7 linked regions of the Homo sapiens genome follow. The protein of the gene in region 1 interacts with the protein of each later gene in a pairwise test. Each region holds a gene or a part of one and is shown in the gene's direction. Other genes may lie near its edges.

Region 1 (3,500 bases):
AATTAGCCGGGTGTGGTGGCACGTGCCTGTAGTCCCAGCTACTCGGGAGGCTGAGGCAGGAGAATCGCTTGAACCCGGGAGGCGGAGGTTGTAGTGAGCCAAGATTGCACCACTGCACTCCAGCCTGGGCGACAGAGCAAGACTCTGTCTCAATTTAAAAAAAAAAAGTTTTATATCCACCCTGTGGCCCTGCTTTGCCTTAGCCTCTACCACTTATCATCTGCTGTTTCTACAGCCGCCTCCCTGGTCTCTTCACTTCTAGTTTCTTCTACTTAGTTCACACCACAGAGGCTGTTCTGACCTGCAGATCTTATGACATCACTCCTTTACTTAATACATTCCAGTGCCCCAGTCCTGCTCCTAGTTCAGAGCCCCTGGTATTCACATAACTGCTGGCTTCACTGACTGACTCCTCACTGCTTCCTGCCTCCAGCCTCCATGGTATCATGATTCTTGCAGAGTGAGGCAGGGGCAGACATTCTTCCATAAATCCAGCTTGTTTCCCTGCATCTGCCCTGGGCCAGCACTGGGCTAGTCGTAGAGACTTCCTACATAGTCCCCTTCCTCCTCCAACTCCTCCCAGGAACTGGAAGTGCTCTCAGAGAGAGCTACGTTAAACCTGCCACCACCCCTTATTCATCAAGACATTTCAGCTTAATTGTTCCTTCGACAAATAGTTACTGAGTACCCACCACATGCTCTATGTTCTGGAAATACAGTTGTAAGCAGCACAGAATGATCTCCACTCTTGGGTAGCTTACATTCTGGGGGTGGGATGAGGAGAAAGATGATAACAGTAAACAAATAATACTAGTAGTGATAGCTGACATTTATATGGTGCTTACTGTGTGCCAAGTCCTGTTTGAAGTACTCTACATTATTCACTCATTTAATCTTTGAAATAAGCCTATGAGATATTAGTATCCCTATCTGACAGATGAGGAAAACTGAGTTCCAGGGAGATTAAGTAATTTGTCACACAGCTAGTAAATGGCAGAGCAGAAATTCACATTCAAGCAGTCTGGTTTCAGAATCTGTGCTTGTTACAAAAGAAAATTTTGATTAGTACTAGGTAAGAAAGAAATGAACAGTGCTGTGACAGAGAGTACTGGAATTTTCTGTGTTGAGGGATACTACTTTAAAGGCAACATCTGAGCAGAGCACTGAGGGATGCAAAGAAGCCAGTTAGGTGAAGAACTGGATGAGAGGATTGGTGTTCTGGGTAGAAAATATTGCAAGCAGGCCGGGTGCGGTGGCTCATGCCTGTAATCCCAGCACTTTGGGAGGCCGAGGCAGGTGGATCACCTGAGGTCAGGAGTTCAAGACCAGCCTGGCCAACATGGCGAAACCCCGTCTCTAATAAGAATACAAAAATTAGCCGGGCACGGTGGCGCATGCCTGTAGTCCCAGCTACTCAGGAGGCTGAGGCAGGAGAATCACTTGAACCCGGGTGGCGGAGGTTGCAGTGGGCTGAAATCGTGCCACTGTACTCCAGGCTGGGTGACAGAGCGAGACTCCATCTCAAAAAAAAAAAAAAAAAAAAAAGAAAGAAAATATTGCAGGCAATAAAATAAAAATTCTCTGTAGGCCTCGATATTCTCATCTGAAAATGGGGACAAGGAATTTTCTCAGGACTGCTTTGAGAAGTGTACTTCAGCCAGGAGTTGGGCAGGGGGCTGGCTTAGTTGTATTGGCATTGTATACCTCTCCAAGACTAACGGCTGGCAATGCAGGAGCTGTCATCAGTGTTGGCCCTGGAAATGCCCTGCGAGCTCTTTGTGGTGCTTAGGATGAGAGGGAGCTATCTCTGGGCCCAGGATCCAGCCCTCCACAGAAGAGGGGTTGCAGTGAGGCTGTCTGTAGCACTAACAACTTCCAGAGGAGCCTGAGGTCTTGGATTGCATCTCTGAGGTTGGGAGTAGGAAGAGGAAAATGGTTTTTGGTGTCCTCATACTTGGTATGCTCTTGGTATTCTCTGACTCTGCCACTTAAAAGATGTGTGAATTTGAACTTGTTTAACATCTCTGTGCCTCAATGTCCTTATTTGTAAAGTGGGAGGGCACCTATATCATAGGGTCATTATGGGAATTAAGTGAATTGTAAAGTACATGGACAAATGCTATGTAGGTTTCAGCAAATACTGCTCTGATTCTCTGCTTCTCTGCCCCTTCTCTTCCTCTGTTCAGCTCTGCAGCCAGATGGAACAGCTGGAGCAAGAGAACCAGCAACTGAAGGAGGGGGCTGCAGGAGCAGGGGTTGCCCAAGCTGGGCCCCTCGTGGATGGGGAGCTGCTGAGGCTACAGGCTGAAAACACAGCCTTGCAGAAGAACGTGGCAGGTGCATAGAGGCCCTCCTGGGGATGCGGAGACATTGGGGCTTGAGTAGGGCAAGGAAGGCCGTCATCCTCTCAGGGGAAGGAGAAGGGCTTCAGAAATAGGGTTGGCCCATGCCCTGTGTGGCTTTGGACAAGCCATTTCACCTCTCTGAGCCAAAGCCTTATCATCTACACAGTGCATGTAGTGATGTCTGTCACCCAGAAGATTGTAGTAGAGATAAAAGGTGATATCATTCTGCATTAGTTCAGTGTCTGGTACCTAGCAGATGTTACAGATTAGCAGCTTGAATGTCAAAAAGGAGATATTTGCGGCCGGGCGCGGTGGCTCACGCCTGTAATCCCAGCACTTTGGGAGGCTGAGGCGGGCGGATTGCGAGGTCAGCAGATCAAGACCATCCTGGCTAACATGGTGAAACCCCGTCTCTACTAGAAATACAGAAAATTGGCCGGGCACGGTGGCGGGCGCCTGTAGTCCCAGCTACTCTGGAGGCTGAGGCAGGAGAATGGTGTGAACCTGGGAGGTGGAGCTTGCAGTGAGCCGAGATCACACCACTGCACTCCAGCCTGGGCGACAGAGCGAGACTCCATCTCAAAAAAAAAAAGGAGATATTTGCTAAGTGAAAAAGTGAATGGAGTGTTGGGAAGATTCTGAGCCCAGATTGTAAGTGGGGTCTGGGATGAAAGCTGAAAGAAAGCTTGATAGAGTGTGGGAGCATGTGGTGTGTGGAACTTTGGAGAGCAGCTGGGACTTCTGTGGTGATGGATGCTGGTTCCATGACCAGGAGGGAGACTTAGTAGAATGTGAGTAGGAATTAGGAGGCTCTAGGAGGGATTCAGCTGTAAGTCAGTGGTAGCATATGGTGGGCATGGCCTTCAAGGGCTATGGGTGGGGCTTCAAGGATTGAGAATGGGATTTGTGAAACCAGCTTGGGCTAATTTAATAGTAAACAGAATCTTAGTGGTTGATAGGGCTTAAAATATTTGTGAGAGCCTGGGCACAGTGGCTCATACCTTGATTCCAGCACTCTGGGAGGCTGAGGCAGAAGGATCTCTTGAGGCTAGGAGTTTAAGACCAGCCTAGGCAACATAGCAGGAACTTGTGTGTACTAAAAATAAAATAATTAGGCCAGGCACGGTGTTTCACACCTGTAATCCTAGCACTTTG
Region 2 (3,500 bases), on another chromosome or scaffold:
TTAAAACATTCCAAACACCTAACTGGGCAGACTTACAAATCTTGTAAATAAAATCTTGATAAACACAGCTGTTATAAATCTAATGAATTGGACTTATAAATTTAGTAAATCAAATTACCCTTCTTATCTCAGAATACAGTCACCAGCTAAGGTGGCAGGCTTATGTAGCATTTCAGCTATCTTTAAAAAAAAAAAAAGAGTGAAAGAAGAGTATTGATTTAAAAACTATGGCTATGCCTGTGTTCTAGTTGGTCACAAATTAGTTTTTGTTTTAGTTTTTCATTATTTCTGTACTTAATTTAATTTCTCTAGAGCTACAGTAATCCTACATGTTTTTTAAAAAAAGGAAAAATACCATTTCAAATAAGCCAAGGTTATACGCCCGGATTATTTGCTGATTAATCTTTTTACCCAAAGAAATTTGAACTTGACTATACCAGATGGACCCTAATTCTCTTTTCTTAGGCACTTGCCAAGACCCCAGGTCTTACTTTACTCAGTGATGAATCACTTGCATGAAAACCTTCTAGGCTACAGTTGCACCTGGTTTTGTAATGGTTTTGACATGAGACATTATTCAGATAGAAGGAATTGTTTCCGTTATTGGCTCTAATCAGTTTAGTAGTTCCCATTGATCTTCATGCCCAACATTCTAAATCTCCCAGTAAGGAGGGTAGGAGTGAAAGTCAGGGAGACAGTGCAGCTATGAACTAAAGTTTTCATGGGCTCTGTTTCTGTTGGAGAGATGCCCAGCTGGGGTATGGGAGGCCCACGTGTCAGTGATGGGGAGTTAAAGCAAAAGAGGAGGTGAAAAGAATCAAGGGAGGAGACGTTGGATGGGAGGAGAATAAAGTGGGATGTAGGTGATAAAGTAACAGTAGAGAACACAAAGAGAAGCAAGCAGTCAGCAAAAGAAAAACAGAAGAGGCATGAAACTGTATATGGAAAAATTCAAAATATTTCACACAAAAAATTAAAAAACAGGAGAGGAGAGAGATGAAGAGTCAGTAGGGGGTCGAGATAGCAGGAAAAAATAAGCAGCAGCAGAAGAAAAGATATAAAAGCAAGTGAACTACAGAGAGAAAAACAGAACATTTTTAAAAAGAGGGAGCTAGCAGAACAGTAGGAATAGAAATAACCAGAAAAAGTTTAGCATTTCAGATTTTTTTTTTTTTTTTGAGATGAGTTTCGCTCTGCTGCCCAGGCTGGAGTGCAGTGGCACGATTTCGGCTAACTGCAACCTCTGCCTCCTGGGTTCAATTGATTCTTACGCCTCAGCCTCCAGAGCAGTTGGGATTACAGGTGCCTGCCACAACACCCACCTATTTTTTTTGTATTTTTCCTAGAGACGGGGTTTCACCATGTTGGCCAGGCTGGTCTCGAACTCCTGACCTCAGGTGATCCACCCGTTTCAGCCTCCCAAAGTGGTGGGATTACATGAGCCACTGCACCCGGCTTTTTTTTTTTTTTTTCTTTGAGATAGAGTCTTGCTTTGTCTGGCCCAGGCTGGAGTGCAAGTGCAGTGGTGCAGTCTCAGCTCAGTACAGCCTCCACCTCCCAAGTTCAAGTGATTATCCTGTCTCAGCCTCCCAAGTAGCTGGGACTACAGGCATGCACCACCACACCTGGCTAATTTTGTATTTTTAGTAGAGACGGGGTTTCACCATGTTGGCCAGGCCGTTCTCAAACTCCTGACCTCAGGTGATCTGCCTGCCTCAGCCTCCCGAAGTGCTGGGGTTACAGGCATCAGCCACTGTGCCTGGCCAGCATTTCAGATATTTATTGTTTGTCATATCTGGGGCTCTACTGTATCCAGCACTTGGGCATTTCTTTCCTCTGACACTGCTCATCTTGTCTGAATGATTGTGATAGAATTTCAGATTACCATAGTCTTAACCAGGCAATCAAACCAGGCTGTTTTCCTGCCCCCAATATTGCTTTGTACCACCCCAACATCCTTGTCCCACCCACTCATATCATTGGTTGGATGGTCATCCTATAGAATATTTCCCTCTCATGGGTGCTAGTCTCTCCCCTGCGCAGTAGCAGCAGTTATAACCTGAAGCTCACAGCACCACTGCTTATTTCTGAGCTGACATCACCAGTGGGAATACCTCCCTCCTCTACAGGCTTGCCACCCATTCCTGTTACCCTTTATTTCACTTGCCTTATTTCTTGAGCTTGGTTTAATTGACAAACACTTCTTAAGGGTTCACTGTGCCAAAACTGGATTACATGGGTGCACATTTCAAGGTTAAGGAAAGTGAGTGTGCAGAGGAGACAAACATAAAGAACTATGATGTTACTGATAGCAGGACCCCTTTTTGACACCATTAGGTTCTGAAGCAATGTAAAGCATCCAGAGACTAATCAGTGTCATAAAGCTTCAGGGTGTTTTGAAGTTCTCATGATATTTTCTGGCATTGTGGAGCAGGCTATGCCATAACTCAACAAGGTCAGCTTTCCTTGACACAATGCTAAGCTGTTCCCCTGACACAAGGGTAAGAGTTTGCCATGTACAGTTTCTTTTTTTATTCTCCTAGTGTAGCTGTCTATCACCATAGCAGCTCCCCTCCCCTAAGGGTTCATCTTTCCTTCTGGCCCCTCACAACATCATCAGTCAGCCTGAAAGTTGCTGCACACATTCAGAGCACTGACTGTATTCCAGGCAATATCTGAGTAGTTGACATAGAGTAACTCCATTAATCTACTCATGGCCTTATGAGGTAGATACTATTAGTATCCCTGTTTTAGAGATTGGGAAACTGAGGCACACAGGAGTTAAGTAGCCCAAAGTCATGGAGCTAGTTAGTGTCAGAGCAGAGATTTGAAACCAGGCAGTCTAGCTCTAGAATCCATGTTCTTAACCTGTATGCTGCAGGACCTCGCAGTGTTTCATATGGTTTTGGCTGCTGTGGCTGTCTTGGCAGCCAGTGTTACCCTTTCTGTCCGTGCTTATCCTTTCTTTGATATCCAGCATCCTCAGACACAGAAACCTCAGTTGCTAGATCTTTGTTTACAGGTAGCAAATCACCCTAATTAACTGGTGGGTTGCAAGCAAATCCACACTAAGTAGCTAAGGTAAGAAGGCAAGCCTAGGGAGAGGCTTGTGTCCTTCATAACTGGTCTTTGTTGCAAGGGCAGTCATCATACAGCCAGCAGGAGCACTGTCTGGAGATTGGCCCTCCCTGGCATGAGGCAGCGGGCAGCGGGGTTAAGTGTCTAATGGAGGCAAGTGGAAGTGCTGGAAAGACCACGAGTCAGTGGGTTCTGCCATAGGTAGAGGGGAGGGCAAAGCCCCAGCTGAAGAACCTAGAGAGGAGAGGTAACATGTGATGGGATTCTCTTCTTTGATGAAGCCATTTTGTGGAGGTGCTGAAATCACATACTTCGTTTTATGACTTGATGATCCTATTCTTTTTCTAGGCCAGAGAAAGCTAACATTTGTATTTTCTGTTTCTTGGTTCAGGTGCTGAAACCAAGAACCTACAGTTACTGGT
Region 3 (3,206 bases), on another chromosome or scaffold:
TGGTTGGATCCAGTCAGTGTTTTTCATAGTACATACAGTCATACCGGTGGATTGTCAAATCAATTTAGCGGGTCACTACCAGCATTTTTTTTTTTTTTTTTTTTTTGAGATTGGAGTCTCGCTCCTTCACCCAGGCTGGAGTGCAATGGTACAATCTCGTCTCACTGCAACCTCCACCTCCCAGGTTCAAGCAATTCTCCTGCCTCAGCCTCCCAAGTAGCTGGGATTATAGGTGTGCACCACCATGCCCTGCTAATTTTTTGTATTTTAGTAGAGATGGGGTTTCACTGTATTGCCCAGGCTGGTCACGAACTCCTGAGCTCAGGCAATCTGCCCGCCTCAGTGTCCCAAAGTGCTGGGATTACAGGCGTGAGCCACCATGCCTGGCCAGCATTTTTTAAATGATATAAAATAGTATTGAAAATATCAGAATGTGGCCAGGTGCGATGGCTCACGCCTGTAAAATCTTAACACTTTAGGAGGCCGAGGCGGGCAGATTGCCTGAGCTCAGGAGTTCAAGACCACCCTGGGCGACATGGTGAAATCCCATCTCTACTAAAAATACAAAAATTAGCCGGGCATGGTGGTATGTGCCTGTAATCCCGGGTACTCGGGAGGCTAAGGCCAGAGGATTGCTTGAACCAGGGAGGCGGAGGTTGCAGTAAGCTGAGATTGTGCCACTGCACTCTAGCCTGAGCAGCAGAGTGAGGCTCCATCAGCAAAAAAAAAAAAAAAAAAAAAGATCAGAGTGCATCACACATAATTAAGGTAGCTTATGTTTTGTGAAACTTTGTGAGTACGGGTTGTCATTTTTAATGTAGCCCTAAATGTTTTTTAGGGAAGAAAAAGTTGGCTTTTAATAAGTATTCAGTGAGAATGAATTTGAAGGGTGTGGAGAAAAGTGGAATAGCCAATTTAAAATAGGAATACTCCCAAGTCCCCTGTTATGGATGTGCCAATCTATTGTTTATCCCAGAAATATTGTTTCATGTGTTTTACAGATAACAAGTCTCATTTTAATCAATACTGTTGCATTTCCTGGTCTATAGAATACAATTTTCAAACACTAGCCAACTTACCTTAGAGAAATACTGGTTTTCTAATGTGGGCAAATAAATACATTCAGTATGAATCCCTTAACAAAATGACCTCATTATGCTACCTCTTGGTAAAATCTAACCAAGCATGAGTCTTATGATTAAGAAAGAAATTTGCTCTGTAGGTGCTTCAGACAGTTTTACAACCAATAAGAATGTGAGATTTGTCGGAGAAAAACTATCTGCATGTCTCCAATCTGAAGAGAGCAAAGATCTGTTATTTGACAAACCCTATTTTTCCGAGCATCAACAGTCAGTGGCACCATGAAAATTAAAAACCTGATAATACCACCAATGTAGTACTCTTTAAAAACATGTCATCTTACTCAGCAATCAACCTGATTGAATATTTTAAAATGAATAAGTGGATAAATATCTTACCTGAAAGATAGCTTCATTAAATAAACTAACTCCTGAGAGGATTTCTTTGGCCTTTAATATCCTATTTAATAGATTTCTTATAACCATATCAGCAAAGCCACTCTGCTCTGGACAATGGTCAGAAGGTAGGAAGAAGTGTTATAGGGTAATGAGCAATAATAAGGCCACCAAATATAATCCCATTGTAATGGGATTCTACCCACTTGTAGAAGTTTATTCACCACTACAAATTACTAAAGTTAACCTAAACAATTAAAGAAAGAAATCTTAGTCTTTAAGAACAGAGGATTGTAAAGTGAGCCAGACCTTCCAATCAGCTAAAATAATGTAAAATAATGTACTTTTCAACCTGACTTGGCTTAATGTAGTTAAGTAAATTTTAGGATAGGTTCTAAAAAACCTTGAGAGGCATTTTGTTGTTGTTGTTGTTGTTGTTAGTTTGCCTTAAAGTTAAATGTACATTGACCTTTGGTATTTCTTAGAAAAACCTGTTACTGAACCTAGTACAGAATGTGAATCATTTCATGCCTGAAATACAAGATTGATGTTTACAGGGCAATTGTCCAGAATCTTGCTGAATTGGAAAGTATTTCACTCTTCATCACTGTAGATCCGTTTAACTTTACAAATGTGTTATTTAAAACATAAACCATTTTGGTGCACAGGAAACCCACTTAAAATTAAATTTTAAAAAGCTCTCGAGAAGTCTGTGGAACATTTATGGTTTTATAACTTACAATTTCTAGCAAAAGTATCTTTAATATCTTACAAAATATTTTCAGAGATAGCTTATCCAAAATATGTAATACATGTGAGAGAATAGCACTGTTGAAATGCTTGAACACATAAAAAGCATTATTGCCTTCATTTTCCCTGAAATGAACCAAGCTACCAATTTAAAGCTGGGAAAGTCAGTACCAGAGTTAAAAACAAGTTACTTTAAAGATATCTGCTTTTACTTTAATCTAAAAAATAATTGATTTTTTAAAAAACTTATTCTATTTTATGTATATAACTTCTCCTTTATAAGCTTAGAAAAATTTATATCAGTATTACATTCTTGATTCTCTCAAGGTATGATTTAAATGGTGGACACTTAAGCCAAAATTTCAAACAGGTTCTTTTTTCTTTGTTCTTTTACAGAATGGCTCTCAAGTCGAAAGAGGGCTGTGCCTTTGGTGTTTGGGTATGATATATTTGCCTGTGATTTCTCATTCTCAGAGCATTCCCATAAATAATGCCACAAAGTAGAGTTTGATTTTTTTTTTTTTGAGACGGAGTTTCGCTCTTGTTGCCCAAGCTGGAGTGCAATGGCGCGATCTCAGCTCACTGCAACCTCCGCCTCCCAGGTTCAAGCGATTCTTCTGCCTCAGCCTCCCAAGTAGCTGGGATTACAGGCATGCGTCACCACACCCGGCTGTTTTTTTTTTTCGCATTTTTAATAGAAACGGGGTTTCACCGTGTTAGCCAGGCTGGTCTCGAACTCCTGACCTTAGGTGAACTGCCCGCCTCAGCCTCCCAAAGTGCTGGGATTACAGGTGTGAGCCACCGCGCCCTGCCTAGAGTTTGATTCTCTTAAACCGTTCTACTAAAATACTATCAGTTTAAACTACCATCTACAGAAATAAAAAACATAAACCACTAAAAGATTAAAGCATTTAGGAGTTTATATGCAAAGAAGTCTTGCAAGGGAGTACAAGCTTTAGGAGGACAGGCTTATCAAATTAA
Region 4 (3,198 bases), on another chromosome or scaffold:
TGCAAAAGCCCTTCTTGTGAATCAGTTGAAAGATAACCTCCCTCCACACCCCTAATTCCTAAATCTCATAATGTGGGCAATCCTTGAATCCACCAAGGACTTTAAATACTTCACAGTCTTGTTTCTCTGATGTGGAATCTGTTAGATTATGGCTCCATTCATAGAAGTATGTCATTTGTCCCTTAATATCCTCAGGGATTGGTTCCAGGACCCTGCAGATACCAAAATCTGGATGCTCAAGTCCCTGATAGAAAATGACATAGTATTTGCATATAATCTATGCACATCCTCCTGTATACTTTAAATCATCTCTAGATTACTTACAATACCCAACACAATGTAAATGCTATTTAAATAGTTATTATATGATATTTATTTGTATTATTTTTAATTCTTTTTTTGTTGCCGTTTTTTTCTGAATATTTTTTAACCAGGGTTGGTTGAATCCATGGACACATAACCCATGGATACTGACTGTGATTAATATTTGTGTTGTCTGCTTACTATGGGACCAATGAGATTTTGCAGGGATTTTTGTGTTGTTTGTTTGTTTTGGTGATTTTATTGAGCTTAACAGGTGTTAAGTTACGTAGATTTCAGTAAGACCTTTGGCAAAGTCTTTCCTTGTAAACAAGGAAATGTGTGTGTTAATGAATTGCACAGTGAATAGGATTCATTGCTGGTTACAAACTCTTCCCAAGATCGTTTTGGAGAGAGCTCAATCGTGGTGTGTCTCAGGTCTCTGCCCTTGCCCTGGCCTGTTTGCGCACGGTATTGAGTATTTGGATAATGACTTAGAGGACATGTTTACCGAGTGGTGGATGAGAAAGCTAAGAAGAATAACTAAAGCTAAATGTCGACCAAGGATTCTGAAAGATCACAGACTGAAGGATGAGTTGAAAGAGACAGGATGAAATTGAATAGTGATAGTTGTTTTCATCAGCTTAAAAAATCTAACTATAAAGTTATACACTGGAGAACTGGCCAAACTGCTGTAGAGACAAAAGGCACTTGAATTTTGTGAGATCGGTGGGAATTAGGTGTGTGTATTGTAGTTGTCTAAAAACAGCTAAGGGTCTTGGTTACAGTTGCCAAGATACAGAACAAAAGTAGTGCAGTGACTACTTCTAGTGAATTCTGCAAGAATGGCCAGGTCACGCTTGGAATGTTGTACTCAGTTTTTACTGACATATTAAAGTGGTTTTATTGTGTAATATTTGGTACATACAAAAGAATACATGTAAAACACAAGTTATAAAGTAAGTAATAAAATGAATGTCTAAAAGCCTTACTCCCAGTTTAAGAACTAGAACATTCTGAAAACCATTGAAACAATATTGTCCTTCCATACTCCAGAAGTAACCATTACCTTGCACTTAAGTTTGTCATTTCCTTTCTTTTTGAAAAACCGTTCCACCATGTTATATGTGCATTTCTAAGTAATACATTTTTTACTTGTTTTTGAATTTTATGAAAAGGATGTCACTGAAGGTAGTAACACTTCATGCCACTTGCTTTTTACTTTCGACATTGCTTCTAAGATTCATATACATCGGCCTTTCCCAACCAGAGCCCCTCATCTTGACCACAGAACACAGAAAATAATTGGAGTGTATTTTCTCAGTCCTCCAAACATGATACATAAATAGTCTCCTAAATTTTAGATGCATAAGGGAGAAGTTATCTCGTTACATACAATGGATGCCTTAGGCTGGGCATTTGGAGCTTAATTCTCTATTGGAACCTGGTTGAGACTGGCCGAATTGTTACATGTAGCTAGAGTTAATTCATTTTTACTGCTGTAAGATATCCCATTTGTGAGCACACTAAAGTTTTTTTCATATGTCCTCCTATGGATGGAAATTTGGGTTGTTACCAGTTTTTTGGTTTTGTTATTGTGAACAGTTCTGTGATGAACATTCTTGTGTGGACCTGCAGGTGCACAAGAAAAATTTCTCTAGGCATACATCTGAGTGAATTTGCTTGGGTCTGCTGCATTTTATGGGGACATTGACAAACTGATAACGAGTTCAGAGGAAGGCAGTTAAGAATAATTTAACCATGTCATAACCAACCTTTGTTTTCCTTATTTTCTTAGGGATTGAAGAGGTTAATGACCATTTGCCAGAAACACTTTCCTACAGACCCATCCAAATGTGTGGAGTACAATGCACTGTGAGATCTGTGTATGGTGTGTTAATAACAATAAGAAACTTAGGGAAGCAGGCTGTGGACTTCTGGAATTACCAACAGGAATGAGGAAAGAAGAAAACTGGAGTTTCCAGTCTCTGAGTTCTACCTGATGTAACTCTTGATTGGTTTTAAGAACTTTGTTGGCCTTCATTTCATATCTGACTGCAAGCTGATTTTTCTTTCTTGCTTTCATTTTAATTAGTCCAAAATTAAGTTTTAAAGATTTTTCCTCACAATTTAAATCCATAGACAACAGAAGGGGGTTTAAAATGACCTTTTTTTCAGTTGACCCGAAAGTTGTGGTTAGATGATTAAAAAGAAACATTTGAGGATGGACTTAATTATTTCAGTAAAATATTATAATTTGCCTATTGTCTTTTATGTAATATTTATATAAAATATTTTTATATATTTCAAAAACATGGGACCATTGAATGAAACTTTATAGTCCTTAAATGTTGCTGAACTTTTGCTGTCTTGCAATAGAATTTGAATGTAAATATTATTACTGGTATAACTCAAATGTTATTTTTCTTGCATTTCAAAGCTTGCTTTTATCTTCCAAGAAGTGTAAATTTTAGTATTTGTCATCTCTCAGGACAGATACAATTAATAGGAAATAGAAGTTTGAAGAAACAGAGATGGCACATCATAGCAAACTAAGTTCAAAACAGAATAACCCCAGTGCATCAAGGTTAAGGTGGGACAGTGGTTTGTGATGCCAGGGAGAGTGGGGAAATTGTGATGATGCTGGTAGACCTGGGCAGACTGTGTTCCCAGCCACACCCGCCAACAGAGGAGGAAGGTGCTGGTACTGATGTCCCCACCCGAGAGTCTGTCCTGGCCTTGGTTTTCCACAGTGAGGGCTCGTTCTAATGTTGCACAATGTCATACTCAGATATCACTGTGACCTGTTACTATGCTTTAGAACCCGAGAGGCCTCTGTTCACATGGCAGCATGTGTGAGTGGATGCTCCCGGAGCAGGTGGAGTGGTGGCGCTGGAT
Region 5 (3,781 bases), on another chromosome or scaffold:
AGAGTGCTGTGGATGCACAGATGAGAGGCAATTATGTCTGCCCATGCAATCAGGGAGGGCTTCTCAGAAGAGCTGGCATTTGACTGGGTTCAGCAGAGAGAGGTGGCAAAGGGCATCTTAAACAGAAATGGGGACAGAAAGAGGTGAGCTTCAGCTCAGCATTTATTTAGGGACTGGCAAGGTTTCTGACCAGCTGCAATGGGAGCTGGCATGGGAAAGAGGGCCAGGAAAGGAAGCTCAAAGTAGGGCAGGATTATAGAGCATCTGGGCCACCCTAGAGAGCTGAAGCTTCCTGCAGGCAAGGTGCAAGGGTTTTTTGTTGTGGTGGTTGTGTGGTTACTGTTAGTGCTTGTTTGCTGGATATTCATTTACTTTATTCTTTGCTAATTCTTGCTGTCAGAAAAATGATTCTAGGTGCTTCAGAATGGAGAGGAATGTCTCAGAGAAAAACTGAAAGATAATTTTATCCAGTAGCTTTATTTTGCAAATCAGATGACCATGAATATTTGCTTTTTACCAACACACTGTCCTGGTTCATCCTGGGGTGGTTTCTATTGACAAGCTGATGAAGCTTTTTTAGCAGAGAGAACAAATTCCTCGTGAACTGCATTAAACAAGCCCTAGCTGAAGAAATTTGCAAGTAGTTGATCATTAGTTTTCAGTTATAATACAAAGATTATGTTGGACTAAGCTTTCTTGGACTGCCCCCGGGTAACATGCCCTAGAGATCTTTTTTTAAACGCACGAGGACCTTCATAAACTCCCATTGAAGGATGGTATAAATCAGCCTTGATATGAAACAGATTTCACTCCAGAGTGAAAAATGTTAGATTATATAAGTACACATAACTATACATGTGTCTCTAAGGTGTCATTAAATGTTTTTGCTCAGCAGGTAGACCATTTAAAATCCTGAAAACTTGAAATGATAAGTAATCAAGTAAATAGCACAGATTCTGAATACTCAGGTGGCTGTAGGCAGTTATCCTGTGGCTCAGAAGGCGCATAAAGATAAATGATTTCATTGTGGATCACATGCTATTCCTTGAAAACAGCCTTCGGTGCATAGGTATTTTTCATATGGACAGCTTTGTGCATCAGCTACTTTTGTTTTCATTTCAAGCCATTTCAAAAACTATTTATATATCTGGATTTTACCTTGTCATATAGAAAGTCAGTTTTATAGCCAGACCAAACAGTTAAAACTGGAGAATAAGATGAGAAATACATCTTCCTTGATATCTTATTTTCTTTTCCTACAAACTTCTTATTTCTTCTGTGTAGTCAGAGAGTGGTTTCATTTGATCTGCATCTCAGGCTAATAAAATTTTTATTTTTTTCTAACTTTTAGGTGGAAATGCATTTCCAAAACCACCAGCTGGCTAGAACTTTACTGGACCTAAACATGAAAGTGCAGCAATTGAAAAAGGAGTATGAACTGGAAATTACATCAGACTCCCAAAGCCCAAAAGATGATGCTGCGAATCCGGAATAAAGAAATGCACACGCAAGGGCTGGGCGCGGTGGCTCACGCCTGTAATCCCAGCACTTTGGGAGGCCGAGGCGGGCGGATCAAGACGTCAGGAGATTGAGACCATCCTGGCTAACACTGTGAAACCCTGCCTCTACTAAAAATACAAAAAATTAGCCAGACGTGGTGGCAGGCACCTGTAGTCCCTGCTACTCAGGAGTCTGAGGCAGGAGAATGGCGTGAACCCAGGAGACAGAGCTTGCAGTGAGCCGAAATCCTGCCACTGCACTCCAGCCTGGGTGACAGAGCAAGACTCCATCTCAAAAAAAAAAAAAAAAAAAAAAGCACACGCGAAGCTCTGGATCCTAAAACTAACGCATACAACCCTGAAACAATTCTGATGAACACATTATGCTTTGCATAAGTTTTGAGGGGCAATTTATAGACCCAAAACAAATGACAGGGGAAGGTGACAGAAAAACATCTAAGAGAGGGGAGAGAAAAATGATGTATTACCAAGTTTTAAAGTTATTTATTTGTTATTTTTACTGGGACATAGAAGTAAAATATAACTATAGATAAATCTCTCTCTGTCTCTCTCACTCAAAGAATGCTTTAATGCCAACTTTCGGTATTCAACCTTGTGTCACCTGACCTTTCTGGCATTGCCTGAGCTTTCAGAGTTTGTGCTTGTTTTGTTTTACTTGATTATTCTCAGTTTGTCTGTCCAGCAGCCTGCCCTGCTTCTTGTGGAGAATTGTTTCTACTTGGATTCTAACCATGCCCTTTAGGTGGTCTGTGACTAAGGGTATTCCATCTTCCTGGATATAGTCATGCAGCTCAAGGCAGGCAGATGGGTTTGTCCTTAGGATTTTTGAATGGGCACTAAAAGAGTAGATGACTATTTCTGCCAGTAGAAGCTGTGGATCAGGGGCTTGGAAGCTGCTGGTGGTCACCATGTGAGAAAGCCCACACCCTAATGGAGGTGACTGAAACGGAACCACTAAAAGCACAAAAGGGGAGGGAGGGAGGGAGGGTGCTTCGCTTCCTTGTTCCTGGGGTCAAGCTGTATAAGACTCCAGGCCTTGCTCTTGTTTATGTACATGAAATATTCTGATATCCTTCTCATAAAATCTCTTTTTGCCTAAGTAAATTCAAGCTGGAGTTTCATGACTTGTATCTAGTGTTCATAACTAATACAGTTGTTCAGTTTTAGGAGTTAAAATGGTTCTTACTGTTGAATTGGACTATCTAACTGTACCCGAAAAGTGCTGTCTTTTTAATGCAAACAGTAAAGTTAATAAAAAATAGTTGCAGATCTAAGTGATATTTATAATGGTTATTGTCTGCAAAATACAAATTAATTTATAACAAGCTATGTAATTTTAATATTTAATAAACTATAAAAATCAGTTCTTGAAGACAAAGGAGAACAGAAGAGACACAGTCTTTCTCTTGTTAAAAGAAATACAAGGACAAGCATGGTGGATCACGCTTGTAATTCCAGCACTTTGGGAGGCTGAGGTGGGCAGATTGTTTGAGCTCAGGAGTTTGAGACCAGCCTGGTCAACATGGCAAAACCCCATCTCTACTAAAAATACAAAAATTAGCCAGGCGTGGTGGTGCTCGCCTATAGTACCAGCTACTCAGGAGGCTGAGGCATAAGAATCACTTGAACCTGGGAGATGGAGGTTGCAGTGAGCCGAGATCATGCCCCTGCACTCCAGCCTGGGTGACAGAGGGGGACTTGGCCTCGAAAAAATAAATAAATAATAAAAATAAAATAAATGCAAGTTGTTTTATGTGTGTGAGGATCTGAGAATTATCTGGACTAAGTTTAGTTTGTCCTTAACTTTTTTGTCCACAATAAGTAAATTATTCTAGCCCTTTGGTACTTAATTTCCCTCTGTATAAATGAGGAATTACCAAATTCAGCATTGGCAGATGAGCAGTTGCCAGCATCTCAATATCTGACCATTGTGTTCCTTCACACATTTTACGTATGAGCTCTTGGCCTATAAATATACGACTACTATATTAAATTTCATTTGTAAACTAGATTTCCTGTTTATTTCTTCCTTTGAATTTTATAGAAATTTTTAGGAAAGGGTTGGCATAGTTCCTTGTGATCTGTTTTTTGAAAAAGCTTCCACTTAACCTTTGGGACAATCATTCTCAAGTGCATTTTAAAGATTAACATTTATAAATTGTTGTAATTTTGTGTTTAAAAAATACTCGAGGTGATTCATTGTATGAGCTCAATTCCTTACAGAATACAGACTGCTGATGTTGGTTAATACTAATGTCATT
Region 6 (2,463 bases), on another chromosome or scaffold:
GTCCAACTTCATTCTTTTGCATGTGGATATCCAGTTGTCCCAGCATCATTTGTTGAAAAGACTATACTTTCTCTGTTGAATGTTCTTGGCACTCTTGTTAAAAATCAATTGGCCATAATTGTGTGGGTTTGCTTTTGGCTATCAGTTCTATTCTGCTAATCTATATGTCTATCCTTTTGCAATGACCACTATCTTACACTGTCTTAAATACTATAGGCTTCTTTTTTTTTTTTTTTTTTTTTTTTTTTTGAGACAGGGTCTCACTCTGTCACATAGGCTGGAGTGCAGTAGTGTGATCATAGCTCACTGCAATCCTCAAACTCCTGGGCTCAAGATATCCTCCTGCTTCAGCTTCCCAAATAGCTGTGACTATAGGCATGCACCATCATGCCTGGCTAATTTTTGTTGTTGTTGTTGTTGTTGTTGTTGTTGTTGTTGTTACAGAGTTTCAATCTTGTTGCCCAGGCTGGAGTGCAATGGTGCGATCTTGGCTCACTGCAACCTCTGCCACCTGGGTTCAAGTGATTCTCCTGCCTCAGCCTCCCAAGTAGTGGGGATTACAGGCATGCACCACCACACCCAGCTGATTTTGTATTTTTAGTAGAGACGGGTTTTCTCCATGTTGGTCAGGCTGGTCTTGAAATCCTGACCTCAGGTGATCTGCCCACCTCGGCCTCCCAGAGTGCTGGGATTACAAGTGTGAGCCATTGCACCTGGCCCCCTGGCTAATTTTTAATTTTTTATAGAGTTGGAGTCTCACTGTGTTGCCTGGGCTGGTCTCAAACTCCTGGTTCCAAGTGATCCTCTCACCTTGGCCTCCCAAAGTGCTGGGATTACAGGCACGAGCCACCTCACCCAACCTTGAATAGTTTTGTCATACAATTTGAAATTGGGAAGAGTGAATCCTCCAACTTTGTTCTTTTTCAGTATTGTTTTGGCTCTTCTGGATTTCTTGCATTTCTATGTGAATTTTAGGATCAGCTTATTGATTCTGCAAAAAACCAGCTGGGATTTTTATAGGAATTGTGTTGGTTCTTCACATCAATTTGGGTAGTATTACCACCTTAACAATATTAAGTTGTCTGATACAAAAACATTTAATGTTTTTCCATTTATTTGGTCTTACTTAATTTCTATTAACAATGTTTTGTACTTTTTAGTGTACAAATCCTCCTATTCTTTGTTAAATTTCTTCCTGTGTATTATTCTTTTTGATGCTATTGTAAGTAGAATTGTTTCTTTTAATTTTATATTCAGATTGTTTATTTCTAATATATAGAAATATACTTGATTTTTGTATATCAATTGTGTACCTACAATCTCGTTGGACTCATTTATTAGTTTGTATAGCTTCTATTTGTGTGTGTGAATCTGACTAATTTTTATATCCTCTGAAACACTTAAGAGAGTGCAGAGTCTTAACTAGTACTCAATCCATTTGTGTTTCTTGACTCAATCTCTTTAAATGCCACATTGTCACATAAGCCTTCCATCCAGTGAATAATTTATCAGTTCCCAATACCACTGAATCATTCTTTTTCTCCTTTGATTTTTATCTGCAGGCTTGGGAACAATGGGCCGAGGCATTGTCATTTCTTTTGCAAGGGCCAGGATTCCTGTGATTGCTGTAGACTCGGACAAAAACCAGCTAGCAACTGCAAACAAGATGATAACCTCTGTCTTGGAAAAAGAAGCCTCCAAAATGCAACAGAGCGGCCACCCTTGGTCAGGACCAAAACCCAGGTTAACTTCATCTGTGAAGGAGCTTGGTGGTGTAGATTTAGTCATTGAAGCAGTATTTGAGGAAATGAGCCTGAAGAAGCAGGTCTTTGCTGAACTCTCAGCTGTGTGCAAACCAGAAGCATTTTTGTGCACTAATACTTCAGCCCTGGATGTTGATGAGATTGCTTCTTCCACTGATCGTCCTCACTTGGTCATTGGCACCCACTTCTTTTCGCCAGCTCATGTCATGAAGTTGTTAGAGGTTATTCCCAGCCAATACTCTTCCCCCACTACCATTGCCACTGTTATGAACTTATCAAAAAAGATTAAAAAGATTGGAGTCGTTGTAGGCAACTGTTTTGGATTTGTGGGGAATCGAATGTTGAATCCTTACTACAATCAGGCATATTTCTTGTTAGAAGAAGGCAGCAAACCAGAGGAGGTAGATCAGGTGCTGGAAGAGTTTGGTTTTAAAATGGGACCTTTTAGAGTGTCTGATCTTGCTGGGTTGGATGTGGGCTGGAAATCTAGAAAGGGGCAAGGTCTTACTGGACCTACATTGCTTCCAGGAACTCCTGCCCGAAAAAGGGGTAATAGGAGGTACTGCCCAATTCCTGATGTGCTCTGTGAATTAGGACGATTTGGCCAGAAGACAGGTAAGGGTTGGTATCAATATGACAAGCCATTGGGTAGGATTCACAAACCTGATCCCTGGCTTTCCAAATTCCTATCACGGTATAG
Region 7 (3,500 bases), on another chromosome or scaffold:
GGTGCAGGTGAGCAGATGGTACTCCCATTGCCCTGCAGGTGTACAAGCAGAAAGTGAAGCACCTGCTATATGAGCACCAGAACAACCTGACAGAGATGAAGGCTGAGGGCACTGTAGTCATGAAGCTGGCACAGAAAGAGCACCGCATACAGGAGAGTGTGCTGCGCAAGGACATGCGGGCACTGAAGGTGGAGCTCAAGGAGCAGGAGCTGGCCAGTGAGGTGGTGGTGAAGAACCTGCGGCTGGTAGGTGTGGCGGGGGCACCTGGAGGCTGACAGGTTGTTGGGACGGCAAGCCTAGTGCTGCATGAACTCCTGTTTATTCAACAGCAACTGGGAATTCATATTTCTGCATAAGACTTTCTGCATTTTTGCAATTTGTTGAAAAAAAATTTTTTAAAGCATGCATCCAAACAAACCCCATTTTGGGACCAAGTACACAATTCTGTCTCAGACCTGAGCAAAAAATTGACGTCACCGAAGAGAAAAAATCCAGCTTAGGATCTTTCATGTGCTGCTGACACCTGACACCCAGAGACTTTTCCTAGGGAATAGCATCATATGCATTTAGTAGAATGCAAACCAACCATTAAAATATCCAGTGTGTTGACTCCTGGGCACTGTGACAGTTTGTCACACAAGCTGGTCTGATTTTTACTTTTGAGGCTGGGGGTTTCCAGGGCACCATTAAAATTCATCTGTGCACCTGGTTCAGTGGCTCACACCCAAAATCCCAGCACTTGGGAGGGTCAGGTGGGAGAAGTGGTTGAGGCCAATAGTTTGAGACTAGCTTGGGTGAAATAGTTGAACCCCATGTCTAAAAAATTTAAAAGAAAACATTAGCTGGTGTAGTGGCACATGCCGATAGTTTCAGCTACTTGGGAGGCTGAGGCGGGAGGATCCCTTGAGCTCAGGAAGTCAAGGCTGTGGTGAGCTAGGATTGTGCCACTGCATTCCAGCCTAGGTGACAGAGTGAGACAAAACAAAAAGGAAAGAGATCATTTGCTGAGTGTCCATTAGCTGCTAGGTCCTGATCTGATCTCTGACAAAACGCCTGCCCGACTGGGGCTGTTGGTCTAGAAAGGAGAGACAACAGGTGAGTTGGAAGACAAAATAAACGTGCCAGATACAACAGAGTATCTGGTGGGGAAGAGTGCCATAGAAGGATCGAAGTGGGGAGAGGTGGGGTGCGGTTTTGTACAAGCAGTTGACCGGCTGGGAGACGGGATGGGCCAGTGGGAAAGCTCAGAGTGACCAGGAGGAGACTGTGGGAGAGGGTCAGAGCTTGTCCGCCTCGAAAGCCGTGGTGGGGACTGGAGACGGGTCAGAGCTCGTCCGCCTCGAAAGCCGTGGTGGGGACTGGGACTTTGACCCTGGTGGAGTCTGTTGCCCTCTGAGAACTTGGGCAGAGGAGAGATGTGTCTCACTAAGGTTCTTCCTGGCTGCTGGGTTGAGGAGACTTTCTGAACACATTTGCCTCACGCCTGGAAGCAGTCCAGCCTCCACTGAATCTGGAAGAAACTTGGTGACGTTGCTGACTTCGCAGCAAAGCCTGAGAGTGCCGAAGTCTTGAGCCCTCCAGAATTAGCTGGTCTTAACCCAGGTCCTGGATATGATATTGTTACATAATCAGAGTTTCCTGTTGGGTAAAAATATGGCTTTAGGCCGGGTGCGGTGGCTCACGCCTGTAATCCCAGCACTTTGGGAGGCCGAGGAGGGTGTATCACGAGGTCAGGAGTTTGAGACCAGCCTGACCAACGTGGTGAAACCCCGTCTCTACTAAAAATACAAAAATTAGCCGGGCGTGGTGGCGCACACCTATAATCCCAGCTACTCGGGACGCTGAGGCAGAAGAATCACTTGAACCTGGGAGACGGAGGTTGCGGTGAGCCGAGATTGTGCCACTGCACTCCAGCCTGGGCGACAGTGTGAGAGTCTGTCTCAAAAAAAAGAAAAATTACTGCTTTAAAAATAATTTATTTTTTTATGCAAATTTTAAATATATAATGTTTATTTAAATATATAATAATTGTTCATTAAAACTATATATTTATTTATTTTTAGAGATGAGGTCTCACTCTGTCTCCCGGGCTGCAGTGCAATGGTACAATCATAGCTCACTGCAGCCTCGAACTTCTAGTCTCAAGTGATCCTTCTGCCTTAGCCTCCCAAGTAGCTGGAACTATAGATATGAGCCACCACACCCACCTAATCTTTTTTTTTTTTTTTTTTTTTTTTTTTTGAGATGGAGTTTTGCTCTTGTTGCCCAGGCTGGAGTGCAGTGGCACAATCTCAGTTCACCACAACCTCTGCCTCCCGGGTTCAAGCTATTCTCCTGCCTCAGCCTCTCGACTAGCTGGGATTACAGGCATGTGCCACCATGCCCGGCTAATTTTGTATTTTTAGTAGAGACGGGGTTTCTCCATGTTGGTCAGGCTGGTCTTAAACTCCCGACCTCAGGTGGTCTGTCCAGCTCGGCCTCCCAAAGTGCTGGGATTACAGGCGTGAGCCACTGTGCCCGGCAATCTTTAAATTTTCTGTAGAAGATCTTGCTATGTTGCTTAGGCTGCCCTTGAACTCTTGACCTCAAGTGATCCTCCTGCCTTGGCCTCCAGCGTGCTGGGATGACAGGAATGAATCCTTTTAATATGCTGCTTCAGGCAGCAGTGCAGCAGGTTGGAAGCTACACACGGCACCTGGAAAGATCCCACAGCTCTGTGTGGATGTGGCTGCTGCTCTTCAGGCTGTGGGATGGTTTGGCGATGGAACCAAGCGGGTTCAGTGCTCACGACGTCTGTTCATGTTCTCTCTCAAGCTTAGAGGTGACTTTAGTTGAGGGAGGTGAGTTAGGGAATATGGAGGTGACCAAAACCATGAGGAACAGGGTCAGCCTGAAGGGAGCGGGCTTCCCTCTGTGTCCGGCTGTGTAGTAATGGCCGCTTCTCCCTGTGCAGAAACACACCGAGGAGATCACCAGGATGCGGAATGATTTTGAGAGGCAAGTTCGAGGTCAGTTTCCCGTGTGCTCATTGTGTAGGTGCCAGAGACACCCCCGCCCCATCAGAGAGGAATTTACCTCCAGAGCTTGTTAACTCAGGGAGCAAAAACTGGATTAAAACAGCCAAGGCATGCAAGAGAAAGAACATGGAAGTTTCCAAGGCCAGTGGACCCACTCAGAATCCCAGAACAACCTATTTCCATGTGAGTTTGGGAGGCTGTGATTACCACACACATTCCCACTCCTAGCTAAAATCAGTAGTTATCAGCAGGTGGTAGCTATTCAGTGCCGTGGGCAGCCTTCTTAAAATAGTCTTCTCCATGGCTCCTGGTCTGAGAAGGCTCCAATTTCAGAAGTCTCTGTGTTTTACTAATAAAGGCTGATTGTGGCTGGGTGGCCACACAGGCCTCGGTTACTGCTCACTGGGGTCAGCTGACATTCAGCTGTTGGCACCCCCAGTGCAGGGAGCGATTAGCAATGCCTGTCACTGGCAAAGGCAGGCC

The links.
Region 2: the proteins of GRIPAP1 (region 1) and ZNF35 interact in binary tests that used the Homo sapiens proteins (3 or more experiments, as listed by UniProt).
Region 3: the proteins of GRIPAP1 (region 1) and CEP57L1 interact in binary tests that used the Homo sapiens proteins (3 or more experiments, as listed by UniProt).
Region 4: the proteins of GRIPAP1 (region 1) and PRPF18 interact in binary tests that used the Homo sapiens proteins (3 or more experiments, as listed by UniProt).
Region 5: the proteins of GRIPAP1 (region 1) and AARD interact in binary tests that used the Homo sapiens proteins (3 or more experiments, as listed by UniProt).
Region 6: the proteins of GRIPAP1 (region 1) and EHHADH interact in binary tests that used the Homo sapiens proteins (3 or more experiments, as listed by UniProt).
Region 7: the proteins of GRIPAP1 (region 1) and DRC4 interact in binary tests that used the Homo sapiens proteins (3 or more experiments, as listed by UniProt).

Annotation. Positions count from the first base shown.
Region 1 is NC_000023.11:48,992,265-48,995,764, reverse strand, and holds part of GRIPAP1 (GRIP1-associated protein 1), read left to right. Parts: intron 1-2,186; coding exon 2,187-2,337; intron 2,338-3,500. UniProt on the Homo sapiens protein: Regulates the endosomal recycling back to the neuronal plasma membrane, possibly by connecting early and late recycling endosomal domains and promoting segregation of recycling endosomes from early endosomal membranes.
Region 2 is NC_000003.12:44,655,232-44,658,731, forward strand, and holds part of ZNF35 (zinc finger protein 35), read left to right. Parts: intron 1-3,469; coding exon 3,470-3,500. UniProt on the Homo sapiens protein: May be involved in transcriptional regulation. Involved in cell differentiation and/or proliferation.
Region 3 is NC_000006.12:109,168,507-109,171,712, forward strand, and holds part of CEP57L1 (centrosomal protein CEP57L1), read left to right. Parts: 3' UTR 1-3,206. UniProt on the Homo sapiens protein: Centrosomal protein which may be required for microtubule attachment to centrosomes.
Region 4 is NC_000010.11:13,628,162-13,631,359, forward strand, and holds the end of PRPF18 (pre-mRNA-splicing factor 18), read left to right. Parts: intron 1-2,098; coding exon 2,099-2,179; 3' UTR 2,180-2,698; downstream 2,699-3,198.
Region 5 is NC_000008.11:116,941,207-116,944,987, forward strand, and holds the end of AARD (alanine- and arginine-rich domain-containing protein), read left to right. Parts: intron 1-1,351; coding exon 1,352-1,495; 3' UTR 1,496-3,281; downstream 3,282-3,781.
Region 6 is NC_000003.12:185,192,587-185,195,049, reverse strand, and holds part of EHHADH (peroxisomal bifunctional enzyme), read left to right. Parts: intron 1-1,562; coding exon 1,563-2,463. UniProt on the Homo sapiens protein: Peroxisomal trifunctional enzyme possessing 2-enoyl-CoA hydratase, 3-hydroxyacyl-CoA dehydrogenase, and delta 3, delta 2-enoyl-CoA isomerase activities. Catalyzes two of the four reactions of the long chain fatty acids peroxisomal beta-oxidation pathway.
Region 7 is NC_000016.10:90,032,680-90,036,179, forward strand, and holds part of DRC4 (dynein regulatory complex subunit 4), read left to right. Parts: intron 1-38; coding exon 39-245; intron 246-2,953; coding exon 2,954-3,008; intron 3,009-3,500. UniProt on the Homo sapiens protein: Component of the nexin-dynein regulatory complex (N-DRC), a key regulator of ciliary/flagellar motility which maintains the alignment and integrity of the distal axoneme and regulates microtubule sliding in motile axonemes.